7 linked regions of the Homo sapiens genome follow. The protein of the gene in region 1 purifies or fractionates together with the protein of each later gene. This does not show direct contact. Each region holds a gene or a part of one and is shown in the gene's direction. Other genes may lie near its edges. The genes, in order: APBB2, FMN2, TBC1D4, GOPC, AKAP1, SYDE2 and RAP1GDS1.

What was found.
Region 2: the proteins of APBB2 (region 1) and FMN2 purify together in Homo sapiens (affinity purification with mass spectrometry; 3 studies listed by BioGRID and IntAct, with this or other methods). This does not show direct contact.
Region 3: the proteins of APBB2 (region 1) and TBC1D4 purify together in Homo sapiens (affinity purification with mass spectrometry; 3 studies listed by BioGRID and IntAct, with this or other methods). This does not show direct contact.
Region 4: the proteins of APBB2 (region 1) and GOPC purify together in Homo sapiens (affinity purification with mass spectrometry; 3 studies listed by BioGRID and IntAct, with this or other methods). This does not show direct contact.
Region 5: the proteins of APBB2 (region 1) and AKAP1 purify together in Homo sapiens (affinity purification with mass spectrometry; 4 studies listed by BioGRID and IntAct, with this or other methods). This does not show direct contact.
Region 6: the proteins of APBB2 (region 1) and SYDE2 purify together in Homo sapiens (affinity purification with mass spectrometry; 3 studies listed by BioGRID and IntAct, with this or other methods). This does not show direct contact.
Region 7: the proteins of APBB2 (region 1) and RAP1GDS1 purify together in Homo sapiens (affinity purification with mass spectrometry; 4 studies listed by BioGRID and IntAct, with this or other methods). This does not show direct contact.

The regions. Positions count from the first base shown.
Region 1 is NC_000004.12:41,008,543-41,012,042, reverse strand, and holds part of APBB2 (amyloid beta precursor protein binding family B member 2), read left to right. Parts: intron 1-3,500. UniProt on the Homo sapiens protein: Plays a role in the maintenance of lens transparency, and may also play a role in muscle cell strength. Involved in hippocampal neurite branching and neuromuscular junction formation, as a result plays a role in spatial memory functioning.
Region 2 is NC_000001.11:240,090,604-240,094,682, forward strand, and holds the start of FMN2 (formin-2), read left to right. Parts: upstream 1-1,279; 5' UTR 1,280-1,506; coding exon 1,507-3,121; intron 3,122-4,079. UniProt on the Homo sapiens protein: Actin-binding protein that is involved in actin cytoskeleton assembly and reorganization. Acts as an actin nucleation factor and promotes assembly of actin filaments together with SPIRE1 and SPIRE2.
Region 3 is NC_000013.11:75,475,670-75,479,169, reverse strand, and holds part of TBC1D4 (TBC1 domain family member 4), read left to right. Parts: intron 1-3,500.
Region 4 is NC_000006.12:117,571,512-117,575,011, reverse strand, and holds part of GOPC (Golgi-associated PDZ and coiled-coil motif-containing protein), read left to right. Parts: intron 1-1,379; coding exon 1,380-1,545; intron 1,546-3,500.
Region 5 is NC_000017.11:57,083,966-57,088,045, forward strand, and holds the start of AKAP1 (A-kinase anchor protein 1, mitochondrial precursor), read left to right. Parts: upstream 1-1,280; 5' UTR 1,281-1,433; intron 1,434-1,790; exon of another isoform or gene 1,791-2,109; intron 2,110-2,407; exon of another isoform or gene 2,408-2,572; intron 2,573-4,080.
Region 6 is NC_000001.11:85,194,517-85,198,016, reverse strand, and holds part of SYDE2 (rho GTPase-activating protein SYDE2), read left to right. Parts: exon of another isoform or gene 1-381; intron 382-3,500.
Region 7 is NC_000004.12:98,267,884-98,271,383, forward strand, and holds part of RAP1GDS1 (rap1 GTPase-GDP dissociation stimulator 1), read left to right. Parts: intron 1-3,500. UniProt on the Homo sapiens protein: Acts as a GEF (guanine nucleotide exchange factor) for the Rho family of small GTP-binding proteins (G proteins) that stimulates the dissociation of GDP to enable subsequent binding of GTP.

The DNA.
Region 1 (3,500 bases):
AAAAAATTAGTTGGGCATGGTGGACGGTGGCATGTGCCTGTAGTTCCAGCTACTCAGGAGGCTGAGGCAGGAGGATCACTTGACACCAGGAGTTCGAGGCTGCAGTTAACCATGATTATGCCATTGCCCTGTAGCCTGGGTGATCGAGCGAGACTCTGTTTCAAAAAACATAAATGTATTTTTAAATGAATAATTAAGCTGCCTCTTCCCTTCACCCCAGCCCCCTTTCCCAGTGATGACCATTACCTTATGTTTTTATTTCCTCTCAGAAAATGTTTGAGTCATAGATCCGCATATTAATAATAAATTTTAAGACCGGCATGATGGCTCACGCCTGTAATCCCAGCACTTTGGAAGGCCAAGGTGGAGAGATGGCCTGAGCTCAGGAATTTGAGACCAGCCTGGGCAACATGGTGAAACCCCTTCTCTACTAAAACATTAAAAATTAGCCAGGCATGGTGGCGGGTGGCTGTAGTCCCAGCTACCTGGGAGGCTGAGGCACAAGAATTGCTTGAACCTATGAGGCGGAAGTTGCAGTGAGCCAAGATCCCGCCACTGCACTCTAGCCTGGGTGACAGGCGAGACTCCATCTCAAAAAATAAAAATTAGGCCAGGCGCAGTGGATCACCAGGTCAGGAGTTCAAGGCCAGCCTGACCAATATCGTGAAACCCTGTCTCTACTAAAAGTACAAAAATTAGCTTGGTGTGGTGGTGCGTGCCTGTAGTCCCAGCTACTCGGGAGGCTGAGGCAGAAGAATTGCTTGAACCTGGGAGACAGAGGTTGCAGTGAACCGAGATTGTGCCACTGCACTCCAGCCTGGGCAACAGAGCGAGACTCCATCTCAAAAGAAATTTAAAAATAAAATTAAATTAAATTAAAATTAAAAAAAAAAACAATAATAATCAATTTTAAAATTTACCCAAATGTTGTGATGATGTTTTTAGAATCCCTATGTTTTAGAGATATATACTAATATAAAATACTAATCTATGTCATAGTATAACATATATAATACAGTATAACACATACTGATGGAAACAATATTGTGTATGGTATTTTCTCCAAAATAATTGGGATTAGAAGGATAAAAAAAGAAACAAAATTGCCCATAAGCTGCTGATTGTTAAAGCTGCATTATGGGTACGTGCGGGTTCATTATTCTATTCTCTAATTTTGTATGTTTAAAATTTGCCACAATAAATAGTTAAAACCAGGAAAAAGTTACTCCAATTAGATTGTTTTATGAATGCTTTGCTTTTTTTCACGTAAGAACGTATTTTGTAGATCAGTCCATTTTTCTACGTCAGTCTTTTTAAGTATTATGTATACTATTCCACTATATACAAGTTCCACGATTTATTTAGCAAGTTCCCTGCTGATGAGTATTTAGGTATTTCTGTCCATAGCCCCTTGGCTTATTGAGTGCTGGTGTCAGTAGGGGCCTGTGGAGAGGGCAAAGTTTGTGCACTCCAGTCTACCTACTGGGACTCTTGAAATGTACACGTTAACTCCCTCTTTCCAGGAAGACTTTCAGGGGCCCCTCTGCTGTGACACTTACCACTCATTTGCTCAGTGTCCTGACATTACTTGCTGTTGGGTTTCCACAGAACATCTTACAGTGCTTGGCCTGTGATGAGAACTGGATTAGAGTTTTTTTTACATGTTAAGAAGATATGCTTAGTTTTCTCTCTGAAAGTTGGTTTTGACAGGATGATGGTGGCCCTTGATAAGTTGCTGAGGATAGGTATTTCAAATCAAATATGCTCGAAAAAATGTATTAGCTGTGACCGAAAAGCAATGAGATTGTGTTTTTAAAAAATATACTAGAAGCCAAACCTATGCCAGCCTTCAAAATGTTCACTTGGGATCTCTGCACCTGCTTCAGCATGTTGCACTGTCTCAATATTAATAGTCATAATTTTGGGAGTCCTCTTTTGGAATTGCCTCAGAGTCTGCTGTGGATCCCCATGAAATGAAATCACTTTGCTTTAATCACACTTCAGGTTTCAGGTAATACATAGATTGGTGAATGAAATAAAATAAGCAGTTTTTTAGCATTGTATTTCTTTTGATTTCATCCTTCCTGTGAAACATACTGTTAGTGTTTAAAATAATCATGATCAGTCTAAATTAAACATTGTATGTTTCACTTGTAATGATAAAGTTAGTGTTTATTATGTATGTTTTATATAGTATATACATGTGTATGTGTATATATATAAAATAAACACAAATACCAACAGTTGAAAGAAAAGAGAAAACGAGAGCAAATATCTTGTGACATCTTAGTATGCCATGCCATAGTACATGTATAAAAAGGGTATAGTTGTCTGTTGACTTGCTGTGTGTTAAATACATAGTCATCACAGTGGTGTGTGTTTTATGACTAAATCATGATGCAATTATCTTTGGATCGTAGACTGCACTTTGGGGAGCCTAGAAAAATAGACTCATTTCTACCTCAGGGGCATCCTTTCCAAGTTAGAATGCTATTTATACAATAAAATGCAATGGCTAACCTAGAGACTGACTACTTTCTATTTTCCTTTACTACTGAATCGCCCCCTCCAGCTGTTTAGTAACTTCTTTTTGTACAATCAATCATGTATACAATATGTGGCTGCCCTTTTCCTCCTCTGTAGTCTGTCCTTTAAGAAAACAAGAGGCTATTTGAAAAAGGAAAAGCATCTGTGAAATGACTATTTTCATAGGAGTTTAGAAAAGTTAAAGAGTGCCTTGGCCCTGATTCTAAAAGAAAGGTTGTATCTTGCTACTGCAAAGTGAGAACTTTGAATCTAGTTAGGGTTTTTTTCAAAGATACAGTTCCCTCAGTGGCCCCAGGTAGTAAGCATGATGGCTCAGATAAATAAATACCTGTTGGTCACACTGTATATAGTCTCTCTGTTAATCACTTAGTGTTTCATGTTTGCTTTATGAAAACGTTGAAAAGATGCATCATTTTGAACCTTCCTGGGTACAGGTTTCAGTGGTACCCACATGTAATTTTATGTTTAGTTTGGGATTTAATAAAATTGAAGACACAGAGTATGAAACTAGATGGATCTTGTGTAGTAACTGTTTCAAAATCAGATTCATTGCTAAAGTGTACAAAAGCAGAATTATACACAGAGAAAACCAAGTCCCAAGTCTAGATGGGTGTGGCAATGCGCCTCATGATCCATTAACTTATCATTAAGAGCATAGGCTCTAGAGTGAGCTTCCTGAGTTCAAATCCCAGCTCTGCTATATCTAGGCAGTTCTCATAGCCTCTCATCTATAAAATGGGGATAAGAGTGTTTTGGCATAGACCTGCTGTGAAGATTAAGCGAGAGCATCTTCAAAGAGCTTTTAGGAGCAGTATCTGGCATATAGCAAGAGCTCAATGAATATTCATGATTATTATATTAGAGACAGTATCAGTACAGTGGTGTGTTATAAAAGTTTGCTTTTCTCTTAATTATGAATTACCTATATTTTGGACTCTGAGTTACGACTTTCT
Region 2 (4,079 bases), on another chromosome or scaffold:
TTTAAAAAAGAATTTTAAAGGCTGGTTCATAATATGCAAAGGAAGACTACACATTTGCTTGCTACATTTAAGTTGCACAGTATAATATATAGCTTTTCTCCCTCCTCTGGGTTATTTTGAAAATATTAATAAGTTGGATGTCTATTCCATATTTTCAAAGTGGTTATCAATGACTTTTACTTAAATACTTGTAAAACTTATTAATGCCACTTTAATCTCAGTTTACTGCTTAAAGCTTTAGATATCCATATTTTTTTAAAAAAACTATTCTTAAAAAATAGGTAACTAAATTTAATAAATAATGAAAACAATGACAAAATATTCAATGAGGAAAAATGTTTATCCCCATATTGTGGCCAGAACGTTAAGAAACTTTTACAGGACGAAGTCTGCCTGGAAGGGTTTGCTTGGGAAAGTGGTAGTTTATAGCATAACATCTGATTTTGTGTGTTTGTGCCAAGGGTGTTTCCTTTCTGTCTTTTTCCTTTTTATAGGCAGCCACAATAGTGACATGTTTAATATTGATGAGTTTGACCTCCTGGGAGTTATCGTATATGCACCCTTTTTGAATACAAATGCTGTTTAATTTATATGGTAAACACATAGAATTTGGAGACTAGCATTTTAATCAACACTAATCTCAGTATTTTCTACTTCTCCTACCTCTCCTTCTGTCAACAACAACAAAAAAATCACAAACCAATTTTATAAATGACAGCTAATGTCCTCTCCTGGAGAAGCAGGGTCTGTGTGTGAAACATAAAAGCAGCACCATGTGTAGTAACCTCTCCTAAACCATATGCTCAAGCACATTAACAGTGTTCAATTAGATGATCAATTATTCAAGAAACAGAACAATCCATTCATTCAACAAATATTTATTGAACAGCCATGCAGAGGCAGACAGGGGGTTGTGTATGTGGCTGTGACCCGATGGCACCTCTAAACTGGAATTGGGCTTCAGTTTTTCTCCGTGTAAAAATTTCTTCTTTTTTATTTAACTTTTCTCTTGGCAGGTCCAGCAGCTTTGAAGATCAGAGTGCATCTTCCAGCTGACGATCTCTTCGGTCGGGGACAATGCATTCGATTCGCACGGTGGAGATTAAAGTCCCCGAGATAGAGGAAACGTTTTTCGCGCCCAGGTTCAGCGAGGAGCCGCGCGGGGGCAGAGGGGGCGGCGGCGGCGGGCGGGGAGCCAGGCCCGAGCTGCGTTCTGCGCAGCCATTGGTGGGCGCCGCGCTCTGCACTGAGCATGTTCGCGCCCCGCCGGCCCCTAGCCGCAGCCGCAGCCGCAGCGACGGCAGCCACGGGAGCCGCCGCGCATTATGCAAAGCGGCGGCAGATGCGAGCGGGGCCAGCCGGGCGCGCGTCGGCCTCCCCTCCCAGCGGCTCCCCCCGCCGCCGCCTGACTCTCCCGGGAGACTCCCTAGGCCCGGACCTGGGGCCGAGGAGGGCCGGGATGGCCTGAGTGCCCGCGGCGCGGCGGCGCAGCAGCGGGATTGCACCATGGGGAACCAGGATGGGAAGCTGAAGAGGAGCGCAGGTGATGCTTTGCACGAAGGCGGCGGTGGCGCCGAGGATGCGCTGGGGCCCAGGGATGTGGAAGCCACAAAGAAGGGGAGCGGGGGCAAGAAGGCGCTAGGCAAGCACGGCAAGGGGGGAGGGGGCGGCGGCGGCGGCGGGGAGTCGGGCAAGAAGAAGAGCAAGTCCGACTCCAGAGCCTCGGTGTTTTCCAACCTGCGGATCAGGAAGAATCTGTCCAAGGGGAAAGGCGCCGGCGGCTCCCGCGAAGATGTACTGGATTCCCAGGCCCTGCAGACCGGGGAGCTGGACAGCGCTCACTCCCTGCTCACCAAGACTCCAGACCTCAGCCTCTCGGCGGACGAGGCCGGCCTGTCGGATACCGAGTGTGCGGACCCTTTTGAGGTGACCGGTCCAGGGGGTCCTGGGCCTGCCGAGGCTAGGGTCGGGGGCCGGCCGATCGCCGAGGATGTGGAAACTGCAGCAGGGGCGCAGGATGGACAAAGGACCAGCTCGGGCTCGGACACGGACATCTATAGCTTCCATTCGGCTACGGAGCAAGAGGATTTGCTTTCAGACATCCAGCAGGCGATCCGCCTGCAGCAGCAGCAGCAGCAGCAGCTCCAGCTCCAGCTCCAGCAACAGCAGCAGCAGCAGCAGCTCCAGGGCGCCGAGGAGCCTGCAGCGCCCCCCACTGCCGTCTCCCCTCAGCCCGGGGCCTTCCTGGGCCTGGACCGGTTCCTGCTGGGGCCGAGCGGCGGGGCTGGGGAGGCCCCGGGCAGTCCGGACACCGAGCAGGCGCTGTCCGCGCTCTCCGACCTGCCCGAGAGCCTGGCCGCCGAGCCCCGGGAGCCCCAGCAACCGCCGTCCCCCGGCGGCCTCCCGGTCTCCGAGGCGCCCAGTCTCCCGGCAGCGCAACCCGCGGCCAAAGACTCGCCCTCCTCCACGGCTTTCCCATTTCCCGAGGCCGGGCCGGGGGAGGAAGCGGCCGGAGCCCCCGTGCGAGGGGCTGGGGACACGGATGAGGAGGGTGAGGAGGATGCTTTTGAGGATGCGCCCCGGGGCTCTCCGGGGGAGGAGTGGGCCCCGGAGGTGGGAGAGGACGCCCCGCAGAGGCTGGGGGAAGAGCCGGAGGAGGAGGCGCAAGGACCTGACGCCCCCGCGGCCGCTTCCCTGCCCGGCAGCCCCGCGCCTAGCCAGCGCTGTTTCAAGCCCTACCCGCTCATCACCCCCTGCTACATCAAGACCACCACCCGGCAGCTCAGCTCGCCCAATCACTCCCCGTCTCAGTCCCCTAATCAGAGCCCCAGGATCAAGAGGCGGCCGGAACCCTCCCTGAGCCGAGGGTCCAGAACTGCCCTGGCCTCCGTAGCCGCCCCGGCCAAGAAGCACCGGGCCGACGGCGGCCTTGCGGCCGGCCTGAGCCGCTCGGCTGACTGGACGGAGGAGCTAGGCGCCCGCACGCCCCGGGTGGGAGGCTCCGCGCACCTGCTGGAGCGCGGGGTGGCGAGTGACAGCGGCGGTGGGGTGTCCCCAGCACTGGCCGCCAAGGCGTCTGGGGCCCCCGCGGCTGCGGATGGCTTCCAGAACGTGTTCACAGGTGAGCGCGCCCTGCTGCTGGCCTCCGGGTCTCAAGTCGCCTGTCAGTCAGGGCCTTCCCCTGCCACCCGCCCTCCCTGGGCTCTGGAAGGCGGTGACCTGGTAGTGGCACATCTCTTCTCCGTAGGGAATCCTTTTCCGCCCAGCGAGCTCACCCCCCACGGTGAAATGACTTGGACATACTTGTTGGTTTTCTGTGTTCTTACAAGATCTTAAAGGGAACAACTTAGTTGTGTCTGTCCTAAGTTGCTCTGCCCATTTCACCAAAATACCTGCTATTCACAAAGTTTCGGGTCACGCCAGGGAGATAAACTCCTTTTTCGTCTCGTTAGCTAAACCATCATTCTTCTCTTTCATTTTTCATCACCACAGCATTAAAAAGAAAAAAAATTGTTCATGGTTCTTTCGCAAGAGTCGGTTTTGGAGGCACAAATCATTTATTCCGGTACGATCCAAAGGCAGTCTCTGACCGCTCTCATAGCTGTGTGTATTTGTCCACGTTTGGTATGTATGTGATATGTAGTTTCTATCTTGCAGCAGTCTGGGTTCCGCTGCTTAGTGAAGTTAAGCGGTCACTCACTGCTGTTTGCTGCTGCAAGAAAATCCGATACATGCTATTAGAAAATTAATAAATAAATAGAATAGTAGGGATAATTTTCATTCAGTTTCATGGTCCAGCCCAGAACAGCCTGTAGTTTGGAGACAGTGAAGGTGGAAAGGTCAAAAGCACGTCTAGTCCAACTGGTACCTCCCCTCCCTAGCATATGTTATAGACTCATACCCAGGGCGGCATAAAGCACAGCCAGAGTATGTTTGCTCTGGTCAGTGTCAAGCAGTCCAATGAGTTTATCCTAGCTTACAGGCTTACAGGGCCCAAGGCCTTACCTTAAGAGCCCAACATGTTTACCTAACCTCTATTCTTAATTATTAAATGAAATAGAGTGTTAGAATTTAATGAA
Region 3 (3,500 bases), on another chromosome or scaffold:
AAACTCAAATAACAAAGAAGAGGGTTGAGTGAGGACCATGGAGGACTGGATAGTGGGTGGCCTTTCTCAAGGTGCTACTTAGCTCCACTTGGAAATTGCATGAATAGGATGCAAGTCTAGCGTTGCTAGAGCTGCTGATTTCCCAAGAGAGAGTGGAAATCTGAATTTTTATATATGACCCCGCATTTTAAAGTACTGGCAAATATTGTAAACATTTAAGAATCCTATCTGGGCCAAACAATACACATCTGAGAGATGGCTTTAGAGATCCATGAGCGGCCACTTTTGATCTTTGGCATAAATATTTGTTGAGTGGACAAGCGCAGTCATTGACACTATGTGCTGTTTGCTGTATTTCCTTTAGAGCATCCAGGTTCATTTGATATGGCTGTCATAGTAGGGGAAGCTGGGACCATCCTTTTTGAAGAATTTAGCAGAAAAATTCCCAGAAGTGTTGATTCTGCAGCTAGACATGTTAAAGGGGTCAGTTCAACATATTATCATCCAGCAGTATGCTTCATGCAGAGTTGGCTGTGGATAGTTCTAGGGACCCTTGAAATCAGAAGGAAGACCTGCTGTTTGCTTTGTTCTGAGTTCTATATTTGAAGTGGAGAATTATTTATTTGGACTTAAGATCATTGTTAAGAGAGTCTCCTAAGTGTTTCCCTCAGTCCTCGACAGAGTCTATAAAGTCTACAAACGTAGCCTAGAGCAGTAGACCTGCAAACATCCCCTAACATACTTGTCTGTGGTTTGTCTGTCATGCCTATTCCTTTAATGCAATGGCCCTATCTGTTGGATGACCGTATACTTTATTGTTTGATATGGGACAATTTTATTGTCAAAAGGGGCACCACTAATAATTATACAAGCACTGTGAGTAATAAACCTGGACTGTTGAGGACAAACCGAGATATATGGTCACCATGGCAAAGTTTGTGTTCATGCAGAGCCACCGAGTTGGAGGATTGTGGTTACTAATATAAAATGATAATGTTTTCAAGAGTATCTACTCACATATTGGAGTTGGATCTACATTTGACCTTAGAGCTGGGAGTGCTGTACTAATCGCTTGGGGGTCTGTTGTGGGGAGTTGCCACAGTGATGTGTTCCCTCTTGGCTCCACACCTCCCTTTGGGTCAGAGTCAATTTAAGGATGTGTGTCAGGAGAAGCATTCAACCAGAATGGCTCAATGCACCACTGTTTCTCCAAGGTGCAAAGAGAAATGGAGATGGGGGTGAAATGTATGCCAATGCAGATCTGTCTCTAGTCAAGCCTATGTAGTCTTATACAGGAGGAATGTCAGGCTTAGCACATTTCAGCTAAACTTGAATATTTGAACTGGGAAAAGGGCTTAATCCCATTGGCATGAAGTGAATTACAGACTTAAACTGATTGGGGAAACAAGAATATCTGATTCTCTCCCAAAGGTCTAGGATAGGTCACTAATACTCTGTAAATATTTATCCACTTGCAAAAAGAGTCTGTATGGCATTACCCAAATTTTTCTGTTAAAAAGTTATTTTATGTTATACATACATTACTACAATAAAAAATAAAGCAGGAGTTGTTATTGAAAATATGAGACTTTGTTATGTTAATTTTTAATTAACATTTGCCTGTGAGTTTTGAAGCATCATTATGTTTTATAATTATAGGATGAACAATCATTTAAAAGGTAAAAACATGATTGTTATAATGTTTATTGGTTGTTTTTGTGTATTATTTACTGAAGCTTGCAAGAATGATTTTAAAGAGACTTTACAAATTGTGTTCTTAAGATTAAAAAAAGGAATTTAATGCCAGTGTTTTCCCAACTCTCAGTTCTCTTAAAAACGTGTATTACTATCTGAGCTTTATTCACGTAACCAGTTTTTTTGTCAATATATTTTTAGAAGGTCATTTTTCAGTTCTTTTTCAAAGTTGATGGTTAGTAGCTTTGAGAATATACTAGTAAGAATACCAGAGAAATTGAAACCTGGAAGATTTCACCTCTCTGTGCTTTCTAAGAAGTTTGTTCTGTGGACAGATAGATCTATCTCTTTTTTTGTAATCATTTTTTATTCTCTCTCCTCCTTGCAGTCTGAAGTGGAGGTTAATTTGCCTTGGCTCTGTGGTAGAATCTTGACTGCAATATCTGGCGGAAAGGCACAAACATAGCCCAGAGACTCCCAGCCACAATGGAGCACATTATGATAGGAGCCCTAAGCTGAAAATTGAAGGTGTTCAGTGTCAGGGCTTGATTATCAGAAACCAGAGATTCTCAAACTTCAGTGTGTGTGTCAGAATTACCTAGAGGGCTTCTTAAAAGAGACCACTGGACCCTACCCTCAATTTCTGATTTAACAAGTTCTCTGGTGATGCTCAAACTACTGGCCGGGTGACCACAGTTTTAGAAACCCTGTGCTAAGTTATTTGGTTCATTTGGTTGGCTGTATGACCATTTCTGTTCCCCTGGATATTTTTGTAGTCTTTCTCAGACTTGAAAGTTCAAGTGGAATGTGAGGAGAAATAATATTTGACTCTGGAATATTTTTAAGAAGCTCTTCATCTTCTAGCTTAATGATTTGCCTGTCCTTTCCCTGATATAGACATTATTCTGCCAGACATCATAAGACCATGCAAATGTTGAATGAAAACTTTGCCTTTCAGCCAAAAGTTTTAAGTTCTGCAGGTGGAATAAACAGTTCATTTTGAGGGGAATACAGATAACCTAAAAATCTGAAGTCCAAAGTGTTTTAACGTCAGAAACGTTTTGAGCATCAACATGACACTACAGGTGGAAAATTCTTCACCTGATTTCATGAGATCACAGTCAAAACACACAAAATTATTAAACATATTGTATAAAATTACCTTGAGGCTATGTGTATAAGGTGTATAGAAACACAAATGAAGTTTTTTTGTTGTTGTTGTTTATTTTTTTGAGGTGGAGTCTCGCACTGTCGCCCAGGCTGGAGTGCAGTGGCGCGATCTCGGCTCACTGCAACCTCCACCTCTCAGGTTCAAGTGATTCTCCTGCCTCAGCCACCCAAGTAGCTGGGATTATAGGAGTGCACCACCACGCCCAGCTAATTTTTGTATTTTTAGTAGAGACGGGGTTTCACCATATTGGCCAGGCTGGTCTCAAACTCCTGACCTCAAGTGATCTGCCCGCCTGGGCCTCCCAAAGTGCTGGGATTACAGGTATGAGCCTCTGCACCCAGCCAGAAACATAAATGAATTTTATACTTAGACTTGGGTCTCATCCTTAAGATATCTCATTATGTATATGCAAATATTCCAAAATCTGAAAAAAAAATTCAAAATCTGAAACACTTCTGTTCCCAAGTATGTTGGATAAGTGATACGCAACCCATATATCCTAATTTCAGATTATGATAGTTTTTGAAAAAATTAAAGCTTGATTTACAGCCTGAGAAATAACACCATTCAGTAAGGCAGAGACTGTTCACATGCCCTTTTCTCATTTTGGAATGAGTAATTGCTTGGTGAGGAA
Region 4 (3,500 bases), on another chromosome or scaffold:
TGCCTCCTGGGTTCAAGCGATTCTCCTACCTCAGCCTCCTGAGTAGCTGGGATTACAGGTGCCTGCCACCACGGCCAGCTAAATTTTGTATTTTTAGTAGAGATGGGGTTTCACCATGTTGGCCAGGCTGGTCTCAAACTCCTGACCTTGTGATCCATCCACCTTGGCCTCCCAAAGTGCTGGGATTACAGGTGTGAGCCACCGCACCTGGCCTACTCTTTTTTCTTATGGTAAATGAAGCATTAATCTTTTTCCTCAGAATTATTTTACAGTTGGTTTTAACTTACTGTTGTTAAATTAATACTGACAGCATTATGTATCGCAGATCTAGTTATCCATACTAAATATGTTTAGTTTACACACACAAACACTGATAGTATCTTACTGTGAAATGCTAACAACTCTGTAGAGCAGCACTTTTCAACTATTTTGTGCCTTGAGACCAGTACAGCCGATATTCACATGCATAGCAGAACTTCCATAAGGAATTCTTTTTATGATCACTGAAACCCAGTCTTTCTTGCCCTTCAAAAAAACGTGTTGGTATTTAGTTAATGACAATGATTTTATCATAATCATACACAGAATTCTGCTGTATTTATTAAGTAAATTATTAACAAACTTTGGTGACTTATTAGTACTAAATCATTTTGTGCATATTCTTTTAATGTCACATTAAAAACATGGAACAAAGAAAAAATAATTTATATCATCTTGAAGTACAAATTTTCTAGTAACTTTTTTTTTTTTTTAAATTTTGTGAGATGGGGTCTCACTCTGTCGCTCAGGATGGAGTGCAGTGGTGCAACGTTGGCTCACTGCAGCGTCCACCTTTCAGGCTCAAGTGATCCTCCCACCTCAGCCTTCCAAGTAGCTGAGACCACAGGCATGCCACCATGCCTGGTTAATTGTTAAGGTTTTGCCTTGTTGCCCTGGCTGGTTCTAGTAACTTTTAACCACATTTAAAGTAATCATTTTGTGAAAAGAAACTCTAATTAGAAGAAATATTTTTGTCCATTTATCTCATCTAAAAGCTAACATTTAATAGTATCTGAGTTCAGTGACTTTGCATGCAAGACATAGATTGACATTAATCTCATAAATTTTTTTTTAGATTTATTTGAATTAAGTATATGACTAAAGGAGTTCACATTAATTCCTTTAAAAATTTTTTTTACTGGTTTTTCCCTTGAGGATACCTGTTCTTTTCAGAGTTTTCATATTTTTTTTATATCTGAGAGACATCAAGAAGTTCGTGAGTATTAGTTTTATCACTAATTTGAGATTCATGCAAAAGCTACTTATGTTCACTAATTTTCCTGAATTCTCACTGTAGTGAATATAATGAAAAATCAATGTACTCTTTTCCCAATATGAAGGGTCCAACAGATACAATTGCTAGGACGAGATATGAAGGGACCTGCTCATGATAAGCTTTGGAACCAATTAGAAGCTGAAATACATTTGCATCGTCACAAAACTGTGATCCGAGCCTGCAGAGGACGTAATGACTTGAAACGACCAATGCAAGCACCACCAGGCCATGTATGTTTGCTTTGCTGCTGCTTCCCACCCAGCCTCTTCTTTCTTTCTTTAATCACAGTTGCTTTCCATTCTTTCCTTTATTCTAGTATTGTTTGAAACCTTTATTTAAAAGTGAAAATGGGATTCAACTTATTCAAAGTAGATGAAGTTTCAACACCCATAGAAATTTTAGTAGCTCTTCACAGACTTACTAATGCCCTGAGAGTGCTGCAGACAGTGAGCCATTGTTAGCAAATGCATATTGCTATAATGTTGGATCATATTTCCAGTTTTTCCTGGATCATGATTGGGCATGCTTGAATTTGTTTTAATCTTAGCTTAGAGTGTGTGGTCATATTGATAATTTGGCAGATATTTTGGGGTAGTTCTTTAAGGGAACTTTTAGTAACTGAATCCAAATGTAGATTCTGAACTAACATTTACACCTGTTTGGTCTTGGATTAAGATAGAATTTGAGATCTGTAGCCAGTTGTCTGCTTCTGTAGCCACCATTATATAAAAGCTTCTATCTGGATAAATCTTTATTGAATTTTATCATAACAGCTGCTTGATAATATAGACCTTAATATATGAAAGCATGTCTCCCAAGGGTTCACATATCTTAGTACCAGATAATGTATGGCCTTAAATAGTAAAATAGTTTGTTGGCTCTGCAAAGATTTTTGTAAGAAGAATTGGTATGTAAATAGAGTTGGTGGAAGAGAAGTGGGGATAGCGATAAGCACTTATGCCATTGTTTTCTAGGGCACTGGTGGTTCCCATTAACTTCTAGGTCCAGTAGATTTGGGAAATGGAGCGGTTAGGAGGAAGACAAAGTAGTTTGTATCAGATGTGTCTGAGTGATAAAAGCATGCTTGTTAAATTAGCTAAATATGAGGTTGGGGTTTTAGGTAGTGGCTGGATTATAGAAATTATTTTATACTAAATAGAGGAATTTTAACTTTAACCTGATAATCATGGAAGTTTTAAATAAAATGGCAGACTTCATAAAATTTACATTTTTTAATAGTTATTTTGGTATAGTGAAGAGGACCAAGTTGGAGTCAAGGAGATATATTAGAAAGATACTATGGTCATCCAAGGAGAAAGTGATGAGGTCAGGAGAAGTGGCATTTGAGAAGAAGGATAGATTTGAGAGGATTATAATCAGGAGGGCTTGATTGGTGACTAACTGCTTTTGGTTAAATAGTGAAAAAGAAGAGTCTGGGCTTTTAGTTTGAGCAACTGAGTGAGATCTGGCATTCACTGGGAAGGGAAATAGAAGAAAAGGAAGGATTTGGGGAAAAGATGATGAGATCAGTTTTAGACAAGTAGTGTTTGAGGTGACAATGGGGTATCCAAGATACATCCAACTGGACATATGACTCTGGATTTCAGAAGAGAAATCTGTTTTGAAGAAATATTAGGGAAACTATCCTTCTATTATACTTGAAACCTTGGAACTCATTAAGCCTGTTCCAAGTATATATGTATATATAAAGTATATATGTAGTAAAAAGAATAGGAGGCCAAGGATAGAAACTTATGGAGTGGGAGAAGGAAAAGGATCACTAAAGGAAGGAGCCTGGGATGGAGCTGTCAGATACAGGCCATCTAGGAAAGTAGTGTAATAAAAACTAACAGAGAGAGTGGGTTTCAAGGAGGGGTTGATGAACAGTATCAACTTTCTGCAAGTTTGAAGTAGGATAGTGACAAAAAGTGTTAATTGTGTGTAACAATATTGATTACTGGTGACCACAGAAAAGAAAATTCCAGTTGTGCATGTAGGGGCAAAACTCTAATTACAGAGACCAGAGGACTGAATGTGAGTGGCAAGGAAGTAGATATGATGAGGATGAACTTCGTGTAGAGGTTAAGGAAAGGGGGAGGATGGTAGTTGCTAAGGAAGATAGTGAAGGATTGAAAGGTTTTTTGTTTTGTTTTGCATTTGCACATGATCAGTATTTTAAAACTGG
Region 5 (4,080 bases), on another chromosome or scaffold:
CCTGTAATCCCAGCACTTTGGGAGGCCAAGGCGGGCGGATCACGACGTCAGGAGATCGAAACCATCCTAGCTAACACGGTGAAACCCCATCTCTACTAAAAATACAAAAAATTAGCCGGGCGTGGTGGCAGGCGCCTGTAGTCCCAGCTACTCGGGAGGCTGAGGCAGGAGAATGGCGTGAACCTGGGAGGCGGAGCTTGCAGTGAGCCGAGATCGTGCCACTGCACTCCAGCCTGGGCGACAGAGCAAGACTCCGTCTCACAAAAAAAAAAAAATAAAAAATAGGGCTCTTTTTCTTTCTTTCCTATGTCAGTTTCCTATTTGTTTCCTTCCTGACATCTACCACACCATGCAATTGGGATTCATATATATATGAATTTGACTTAAATCTCATTAGGTATAGTAAATGGCATCTGTCATTTAAACTTGCATTTGATCACTAGTGAAGATTAAGCATTTTCCCAAGTAATTGTTAGTTCTTAGCATGATCTATTTTCTATATTTTGGCCAAACAAATGTTCATTTAAAGTCACTTTGTTTTAAGGATGACAGCAGGGCTGGACAGCCAAAACCCTACCCTCTCCATTTATTTTGGAGGAATTTATTTTCCCAAGGTCCTGGCAGAGATAGTGACTCACCGTGACTATCTCTGCAAAAATCATTCCAAAACCCACACCAATTCAGAGAAAAGTGCTTCATTTCGATAACATCGACTTGTGAAAACGAGCAAGAAAGTTGCATTTGAGTGGTACCAGGTTTCACCATTATGCAGTTATCGAGCAATTATTAATGGCCAACCCAATTATACGCTACAAGGAAATGACGGTCACAGGGAAGCTCAAAGCCCCGAAGCGAGGGAAGCCCTGCTCCTCACCGGCCCCTCCGCCTTTTCCAGGGCGCTCTCCGTCCCGAGGCAGGAGATGGCCTGGTTGACCCTTCGAGACAAGGCGGCAAAACCGGTGCTGGGCTTGCGGGGCAGGGAATCAAGGTTCCTCCGGTTGCTGTACCGTCCCGCCCGGCCCCTCTCCCGGGCACCGGAGAGATGACGGCTCTCTCGCGAGAGCGCGAGCAAGACCCGGCTCCGGGCGGCGGCGGGATGTTAGCCCAGCGCTGTAGACCGCGCCCCCTCTGGCGCAGCTGGGAGAGGCGCGGCGGAGGCACTGCCGGGAGCGGCCGGCGGCGCGCACGCGCAGGTGAGCGGGGCGGGCTCGGGAGCGCGCGGGCACAAGGGCGAGGGGCGGGGCCTGCGTCGCGCTGCGGGCACGTCGCCGCGCGTCTTCAGTATTTAATGTCTCTGTGTTCCACCCGCCTGGGCTAGCACGTGGGGGAGCTGCGGAAGCGCGGCGCTGCGGGCCGGGCCGCGGGGCACAGCCGGGGGCCGGCGGCGGCGCGCGGACTCCGCATCCCGCACCCCGATGGTAGCCGAGGAGCTGGTAGGTCGGGGGCAGCTGCGCCGGGGACCCCCTGCCGGAGACCCGAAGGCGGCGGGGTCGGGGCGATGGGGAGCCTGAGGTGCAGGTGCAGGGTGCGACGCGCCCTCCAGGTACCCCGGGGGCGGGACGCTCCGGACGCAGAGGTGTCCTGGGGGCTCTCGGCCGCCGCGCGCTGTCAGGCAGGCCCATCTTTCCCTCCCTCGTCTGCGCCCCCTCTCGTCCTTCCCCGCCGGTTGTCTGCCCGCGGGCTCCTGACAGATCGCGTGTGCGCGGCTCTGGGCGGCGCTCTGCGGCCGCGCCGTCCTCCCCACGCGCGTCACTGTCCTCGGGGGCGGGGGGCGAGGGCGCGACGCCCGGGTCGCCTCTCTGCACCTCAACTTAACCGGAGCGTGCACACCCGCCTGCGAGGCTGACCCGAGCGCGTCCCACCCAAGGTCGCCCAGCCCCGCGGGCGTTTACTTTTCAAAGGTCGTGTGTACACAGTCTGAGCCGGAGCTGCCCCTTCACTTCTGGAGCCTCGCCCAACTTCTCACCCTCGGCTCGCCCGCCGGCGCAGCCCCTGGGAGTTCCGTGCGGCGAGCCAGGGGAACTGGGAAGATGGGCCGGGACATCGGCCGGTTGTGATCCAACCGTGTTTCGGGCTGAGGGACCGTTCGAACCGAATTGGGGTCTGGAGGTCGGAGGCTCAGGGGCGTCTCGGGGGGAATTTGCATTCGTAGCCCCTGCAGGCGTGTCCGGAGGGGTGGAGGCCGTCCAGCCTGGGGTGTCTGCCGACCTCACGCCCGGGGGCCCCGACGGTCACGTGTCCGGCCCCGCCTGCGGCCCAGGGCCCGGGGTCTGCGATCTGGAGGGACCGCGCCAGTTTTGGGGTTACGATGTGCTAGGAGAGGCAGTGGCTGGATGCCTCGAACGCGGGCTTTCTGGCGTTCAACTCTTTTGTGCCCTAGCTGAAGGTCTTCCTGTTTCCCTTCCAGGGAGGGATAGGAGAAGAAAGGTGCTGATCGTGGTAGGCGGTGCTGTGGCGACTCGGAACGGCATGGGAGCCCTGGGCGTTTCGGGATCTTCCTCTCCTGGGGGATGTCCTGGGTGGCGGCGCCTTCCTGCCGCCGTTAACACAAACCCGGTGGACTTCGCTCCAGGTGCGAGTCGAGGCCTCTCAAGCTGGGTAGGGTGTATGCGCAGGGCAATTAGTGAGGTTAACCTGGGTATCTTTCCCCTACTGTAGTGCGCGTTACTTCGTGTTTAGATTTGTCTCCAGTGAAATCTAGGCTGCTGGACCTGGTGCAACAGTATCTGTTAGTTACTGATCAAGGAACACCGTTCACAAAAAGCTATTAATTCTGGCAACTAGTAGCCTTACAAGCTCTTGTAACTGCTAAGTCCTTCCCAAATTAGTACCTTTTTTTTTTTTAACTCTTTATTTAGAAAGCAAAGCTTGGACTCTTAGCACCACCCATCCACTTTGCTCTTAAAGGTACAGAACATCTTTGAAATGAAGAAGGCTGCCTGACTTGATCATTTATATAATTCCTCTGATCTTGGCATTGAAGTGGTTCACCTGCTGATTATTTAAGACCCTGAGCACTGGAAGCAAGTGAAGTTATGTTTTGGGAACCTTTTGACTTGTGTTGAACTTTTCTTTAACCTCTAACTAGTTTTGTAGGTTCTGCATAATTCTTGGGTGTATTCTCTTTGAAATATGGCCCTAGGTTAGAGGAGGTCCTCTGGATCCTACAGGCATGCAAATCACTAAAGCTTGAGTCCATTACTGGATTAATAGGCTCTGTCTTCATGCATGTTGTCAGATGATGGCTCAGAACTTGCAGGTAACAGATCCTAGCCAATGAGTGAGACAGGTCTAATGGATTTGTGTCTAGGTCTAGTTCCTTGTAGGAATATCTCTCCCATCTCCCAGTTGTTTCTAGGAAATGCATTCTCACTTGGCCACTGCAGGGTGACAGTGGAGGTGTCTGTTGTAAGTGGCCTGCTCAGGTGCTGAAGTCGATATGTCTCCAGTGTAAGGTTGCTGAACATCAATATTTAAAAGCAATTTATCTTGCTGCCTGGTAACCCAAATTATTCTTGAGCTTTGGACATAGGCTGGGTTGCAGCCATATTTTAGGGGAAGGCTGGTGTTAGCCTCTACAGTATTCCCTTTTCCTGTCCTAAAGACAAATGGAGATCATATTTGTGATACTGGGGACTGTGATAGGTGCTTAAGCATTGCTCTTCCCCTCTCCTCCCTGAACAATCCCTGAGACTGACTTTGTTTCTCTTGAATTACTTGAGTGACTTGAATTCTATTAAAAGCACCCCTCTCCTTAGCCTCTGACCCAGAAGCTTGTTTGGGAGGAAAAACGAATTGGTTTCCCTAAGCTTTGCTGGCTAGCCTCCTGCTCCCAGCCTGCAACATGACTTGATTGTGTGTGCATTTCAGGGCTTTGAAGAGCAGGCAGCTTGTAGCCAATGTACCCAGAGAGCTGGCCGTAGAGTTCCCCTAGGTCACTCCTTCCTAATCTTCCCTGTGAGTCTGAATGATTGGGCCTTTCTGTAGCTTGGTCTGTTTTCCTATTGTGGGGAAGTCAGTTGTTTCAGGTATGAGTTAATACCTTCAGCTTGTCATTCTCAGGCGTTTTCTTCCACTATG
Region 6 (3,500 bases), on another chromosome or scaffold:
AGTTGCAAAGAAGATGGGAGAATCTTAGGCCGGGTTTAAAGACATTTTAAAAAGTAATTGCTGGGCCGGGCGCAGTGGCTCATGCCTGTAATCCCAGCACTTTGGGAGGCCGAGGCGGGCGGATCACGAGGTCAGGAGATCGAGACCATCCTGGCTAATACTGTGAAACCCCGTCTCTACTAAGAATACAAAAAATTAGCCGGGCGTGGTGGTGGGTGCCTGTAGTCCCAGCTACTCGGGAGGCTGAGGCAGGAGAATGGCGTGAACCTGGGAGGCGGAGCTTGCAGTGAGCCAAGATCGTGTCACTGCACTCTAGCCTGGGAGACAGAGTGAGACTCCGTCTCAAAAAAATAAATAAATAAATAAATAAAATTTAAAAAAGCATTTGCTGTATTCATTTTAAACTTTTACCTTTAAATATTTACTTACTTGAAATTGATGTCACTTGACTTCTACTTTTAAATCATGTTTTCTGCAAAACTTATTTGGAGCGGTCTAGATGAACCAGTACATTCTTGTTTATGTAAAGATGTTAAATATCCTAAAAGGTTTATAGCACATTTTTCTGTACAGTATTATTCATAAGATATTTTGTCAAAATTACATTTAGAATTTGTAATACAGAATAATTATTCAGTGGAATGGAGATACTTCATATAGGTATTGTGAAAATTTTTGAGACTATATGACAAATGGAAACACAAATGATTTTCTATTTTGATTTCTGGCTCCTACTAAGAACTTTTGATAGTATTATAATGACAAATGATTTGATGCAGTTAAGTATGTAGTGTTCGCAGATTGGCCGAATTGTTCCTAATTGAGATGATTATTTCAGAAATCTAAAGTCATTACACATAATAAAAATTGTCAAGTTTCTGCAAGCCTTAAGATTACAAAGGAATCTTAATGTGTTTGCCAACTATACATCATTATAAATCTTTATAAATAAGTTTTAATTAGCATATAGTTTTCAGAAACAAATTCAAAAGCACCTTTTATTGCTTTAAAAAATAATTAGCCTACTTTGACTCCACTTTTCCTGCTACATGGTCTGGGAAAGAAAAAACTTTAGACTGTATAACTTAGTATTTTGTCTAAAATTTTTAGACAATTATTTTAAGGTAGTATTAATTAGTTTGGTATGATCTTTAACCATCTTAAAGTGAAGTTGACACTATGACTTGATTCCCATCTACTTTTCTCAAGTATTTGTAACTCTGATTTTTTATCTTTATGAATTGCATAATCTTTATGAATTTTTCCAACAATTTTTTTCTGTATTTGCCCTTTTCAAGGTGAGTAGCAATAGTTATATAGTTTTTGACAGTCTTCTAATTTTAAATCTCTTCCTGAGAGATTCTGCTATTGTGGTGCTAGAAAGCAAGTGCAGTTGCTTTTTTTTTTTTTCTTTTTCTGGAAGAGTGTCATGGAACATTGGAGTTGCTGGTGGCTGGAAAACTTCAAGAATTACAAATTCAGCAGAAAACAGTGTTGTGTTGATTTGAAAGTCCTACATTTCTAGACCAGTGGCTCCCAAGAAATGCTGTGTTTAAGAAGGCTGTTTGCTAGACCTTTGCCACTCAAAATGTGGTTCAATGTTTTAGAGCAGTGCTTTTCAAACTTAATGTCCATATGAATTCCCTGGAAATTTTGTTGAAATGCAGATTCTATAGGTGTGGGGTGGGACCTGAGATTCTGCTCCCAGTGTAGATGCTGCTGTCTGGTGTACCGTACTTTTGAATAGTAAGCTTCTAGAGCTCTCACATCCCCGAAGTTTTACAAAAAATTCTACCTTATTCTGATACTTGGTACTTAAACTACCCCTATTAGAGCAAAGCACTTGGGCTCTTTTTGCTTCAGTTTTATGTATATGAATTAATATACTTACTACTTATATATTACACATTTGAGCAGTTCCCTCTATATTGGCCTCATCTTGCTTAACTAACAAGTATTAGTGAGATTTTGGAAATGCAAGAGAGGAGGCCGTATAGGACAATGGTTAACAGAATAGAGATTCTGGGTTTCTGGTCAGACTCTACCACTTACCAGGCTTGTGACCTTGGATAAGTTACTCAACCTTGTGTAGCCTCAGTCCTCAGGTTGCTGTGAGGATGAAAAGAGATAATCCATTTGGTGCTGTGCCTAGCACTTACTTGTTATTATCAAGGGGAAGGCAAGCAGGCTTTGTGAGAATACTGCTTTGCCTCAGATCATTAGGATTCTAGATGGAGAGTGAAAAGGTCGAAGTTGAGGAGTACTGCCTTGAGGAGCACTGGGAATTGAGCTAGAGGACACCTTTTTGGGGTATTTATTTATTCTGCTCATCTTTTGTGCTCCTTTCTTTTGCTGCTCCCTGTTACTTTTGTGGAACTGAAAACGGTCTCAGAGTTTTCTTCTCTACTTTCCCGTCTCAAAAGCTAACACACAGCTTTTTTTTTTCTTTAGGGTTTTTATTGCTAGCCACAAGGGAATGAAAATAAAAAAGGTGCTTCTTTCCTTTTCATTCCATCCCTCTCCTCCTTTTAGATTTGTCTAGGAAAGATAAAGATACACACACACATATACACACACAGAAACTTAAGACTTAAGTTTATTCTAGTAATTTCATCTGGACTGCCAAGTTTGACTCTAAGCAGGGGATACTTGTACTTATTTAGAAACAGGATTTTAATAAATATTAAAATGTTTAATGCTTTTAAAACAGATTTAAACATCTAATACAGTGTTCATAAGATACTTTTATTTGGGATTTTTAAAGAGAAGTAAGGAAAAGCAAGAGAGTTTATTTCTGCAGAATTTTTAAAATGATGAAAAGATGTCTCTCTAGATACTACACATTTTTTTTTTTTTTTAGATGGAGTCTAGCTCTGTTGCCCAGCCTGGAGTGCAGTGGCGTGATCTCGGCTCAATGCAAGCTCTGCCTCGCGGGTTCACGCCATTCTCCTGCCTCAGCCTCCCGAGTAGCTGGGACTACAGGCGCCCGCCACCATGCTCGGCTAATTTTTTGGATTTTTAGTAGAGACAGGGTTTCACCGTGTTAGCCAGGATGGTCTCGATCTCCTGACCTCGTGATCCGCCCGCCTTGGCCTCCCAAAGTGCTGGGATTACAGGCGTGAGCCACCGCGCCCAGCCGGTACTACAGATTTTCAATGAGGGTTGAAATATATAATTTCTTGGAAAATTTGCTGATGGCATTTGAGCTGGGGGCACTAGTTAAATGTTCAGTAAGTAATCTAGATTTATTATGAAATAATAGTTGAGAAAACAGAATTGACTTGGGTAGTTCACCACTGTGTGGAATATTTTTCTGAGTGAAAAACTTTTAATTGCCATTTCTTTCTTCTCTTACAGATTCAAAGTAAAATTACTTTAATTAGAATCTGAAAATTATCCCATAACATGTATAGTTGCAAGAGACTAAGGACTTTTTTTGCCTTGTAACTTTGCATACTTATTTTTATATTTTTAGTTGGACCTTCTTTCAATATGTGTGT
Region 7 (3,500 bases), about 57 Mb from region 1:
AATGGTAGTTCTGTTTTAAGTTCGTCGAGAAGTCTCCAAATTGCGTTCCACAGTGTCTGAACTAATTTATATTTCCACTAACAGTGTAAAAACATTCTCTTTTCTCCACAGCCTTACAGCATCTGTTTTTTGTTTGTTTGTTTTTACTTTTTAATAATAGCCATTCTGACTGGTGTGAAATGGTGTCTCATTGTGGTTTGATTTGCAGTCTCATCACATTAAGAGGATCATACGTCATGATCAAGTGGGATTTATCCCTGGGATGCAAGAATGGTTGAACATACACAAATCAATAAATGTGATACACCACGTTAACAGAATGAAGAACAAAAATCATACGATCATCTCAGTTGATGCAGAAAAAGCATTTGACAAAATTCAACATACTTTCATTTTTAAAACTCTCAACAAATTTGGTGTAGAATGAATATGCCTAAACATAGTAAAGGTCCTATATGACAAGCCCATAGCTAACATCATACTTAATGGTGAAAATCTGAAAAGTTTATCTCAGATTGAGAAAAAAAACAAGGATGCCCACTCTTGCCACTGCTATTTAAGATAGTACTAGAAGTCCTAGCAGAGCAAATAGACAAGAAAAAGAAATTAAAAAGCATTCAAATTGGAGAGTAAAATGATCTGTTTAAAGATAGCATGGTCTTATACATAGAAAGCCTTAAAGACTCCTTGAAAAAAAAGACAAAAACTATTAGTCCTAATAAATGAATTCAGTAAAGTTTCAGGATACAAAATCAGCATAGAAAAATCAGAAGCATTTCTATACACTAACAGCAAACTTTCTGAGGATGTAATCAAGAAAACAATCCTATTTACAGTAGCTGCAAAAATATAAAATATTTAGGAATAGATTTAACCAAGAAGGTGAAAGATCTCTATGCTGAAAACTGTAAGACATTGATGAAAGAATTTGAAAAATTAACAGATATCCCATATTCATAAATTGGAAGAATTAATATTGTTACAATGTTCATAGTACTGAAAGTGATCTACAGATTCAATGTAATCCCTATCAAAATTCCAGTGAAACTTTTCACAGAAATAGCAAAACAATTCTAAAATTTGTATGGAACCACAAAAGATCTGAATAGCCAGAATAATCTTGAGCAAGAAGAACAAGGCCAGGGGCATCACACTACATGCTTCAAGTCATGTTACAAAGCTGTAGTGATCAAAACAGTATGGTACTGGCATAAAAGCAGACACATAGATCAATGGAACAGAATAGAGAGGCCAGAAATAAACCCAAGAATTTACAGTCAATTGATCTTCAAAAAAAAAAAAAAAAAAAAAAGCCAAGGAAACACAATGGGGACAGGACAATCTCTTCAATAAACACTGTTGTTAAAACTAGATACCCACATACTGAAGAATGACATTGGATCCTTATTCATCCCATATACAAAAATCAGCTCAAAATGGGTCAGAGATTTAAACAAAAGATTTGAATTTGAAAAGCATAAGATGCGCGCAAGAAAATACTGGAGAGAAGCTCCATAAGATTGGTGTTGGCAATGATTTTTTGTTTATGGCACCAAAAGCACAGGCAACAAAAGCAAAAATAAACAAATGGGACTTCATCAAATTAATAAGTTTCTCTGTAGCAAAGGAAACAACAAAATGAAAAGGCAGCTTACATAATGAGGGGAAATATTTGCAAGCCGTATATCCGATTAGGGGTTAACACGTAAAAATAATCAGGAACTCATACAACTCAGTAGCTAAAATAAAATAAAAATACAGGTTGAGGATCCCTAATTCAAAATCTGAAATGCTTCAAAATCTGAAACTTTTTGAATGCTGACATGACACTCAAAGGAAATGCACATTGCAGCATTTGGATTTTTGGTTTCAGATTTTTGGATTAGGGATGTTAAACCAGTTAGTATCATGCATGTATTCCAAAATCTGAATAATTTCAAAATCTGAAACACTTCTGGTCTAAAGCATTTTGCATAAGGGATACTCAATCTGTATTTACCTAGATGTAAATAATAAATGAATATATTAGAATAGGTTATTGTCTCAGTCCATTTTGTGCTGCTATGACAGAATACTGCAGACTGGGTAATATATAAAGAACAGAAATTTATTCTATCAGAGTTCTGGAGTCTGGTAACTACAAGATCAAAGTGCCTGCAGGTTTGGTCTTTGGTTTCAAGATGAGGCCTAGTTGCTGTGTCCTCCAAAGAGGAGAAACCTTGTGCCCTCACACAACAGAAAAGCAAAAGAGAAAATCCACTCTGGTAAGCTCTTTTTATAATGCCATTAATCTATTTATGAGGGCAGAGCCATCATAACCTAAACACCTCCCATTACCTTCCAGTACTGTTGTGTTTAAGTTTCAACATGAGTTTTGGAGGGGACAAAAACATTCAAACCATATAGTTATAAAGACTATTTCAGTTATAAAAGCCTGTGATTCCTTGAAACTGAAGTTTGAAATATACTCCATATCATTGGTATCTTAAATATAACCTCTATATAACTTGTTTTTCTTTAGTGTTCAAATGGTAATGTATACTTGAGGTAGCAACTTAAGGGTTTGAACCAACTTTAGCTTTGTCTGAATAAATGACCTAAAAAAACATTTCTCAAGCTGGCTAAGATATGGATGCTGGATTCAAATTGCAGGTGAAATAATTCTCTCAGTGCTTCTATTTATATAGCTTTTGTAACTAGAAGCATTTCAGGAGTTAAAACCAAGGACTAGGTTAGTGATAAATGGAAGTGGTTAAATTGAGCTCTTAGCTATGATTGGCTGTACAGTTGACCGTTGAATAACATGGATTTGAACAGCGCAGTTCCACTTCCATGTGGATTTTTTTTTTTCAATAAAAGCTATACCAAGTGAGTTGCCTCTCCTGCCTCCCCTTTTACCTCCTCCACCTCTGCCACACCTGAGACAGCTAGATGAACCCCTCCTCTTCTCAGCCTACTCAAGAGTGACTATAATAAGGATGAAGACCTTTATGATGACCCACTTCCCATGTAATGAACAGTAAATACATTTTCTCTTCCTTCCATTTTCTTTTCTCTAGCTTACCTTATTGTAACAATATGGTATTTGATGCATATGGTATATGATGCATATAACATACATAATATGTGTTAATTGACTGTTTATGTTATTGGTAAGGCTTCTGGTCAGCATTAGGCTATTAAGGTTTTAGGGAGTTAAAAGTTATGTGTGGATTTTTGACTGAGTGAGAGGGGGATTGGTACCCCTAGTGCCTGCATTGTTCAAGGGTCAACAGTACTTGTTAATTCCAAAGTCCTTTTTGTTCACAAAATGACTTTAGGTACTTATTGGTACTGAAATATATTTATTAATATCTGGGCTACATCTTTGTATTTAGCAGATTAGTAGACATCTCTACTAATTAAACTCATTGAGTTCAAAATAAAACTCATTTTATAATTTTTAATAATGATAATTAGAGGGGTGCTGGTAAATGTTTAACTAAACGCCTTTCTCCAAA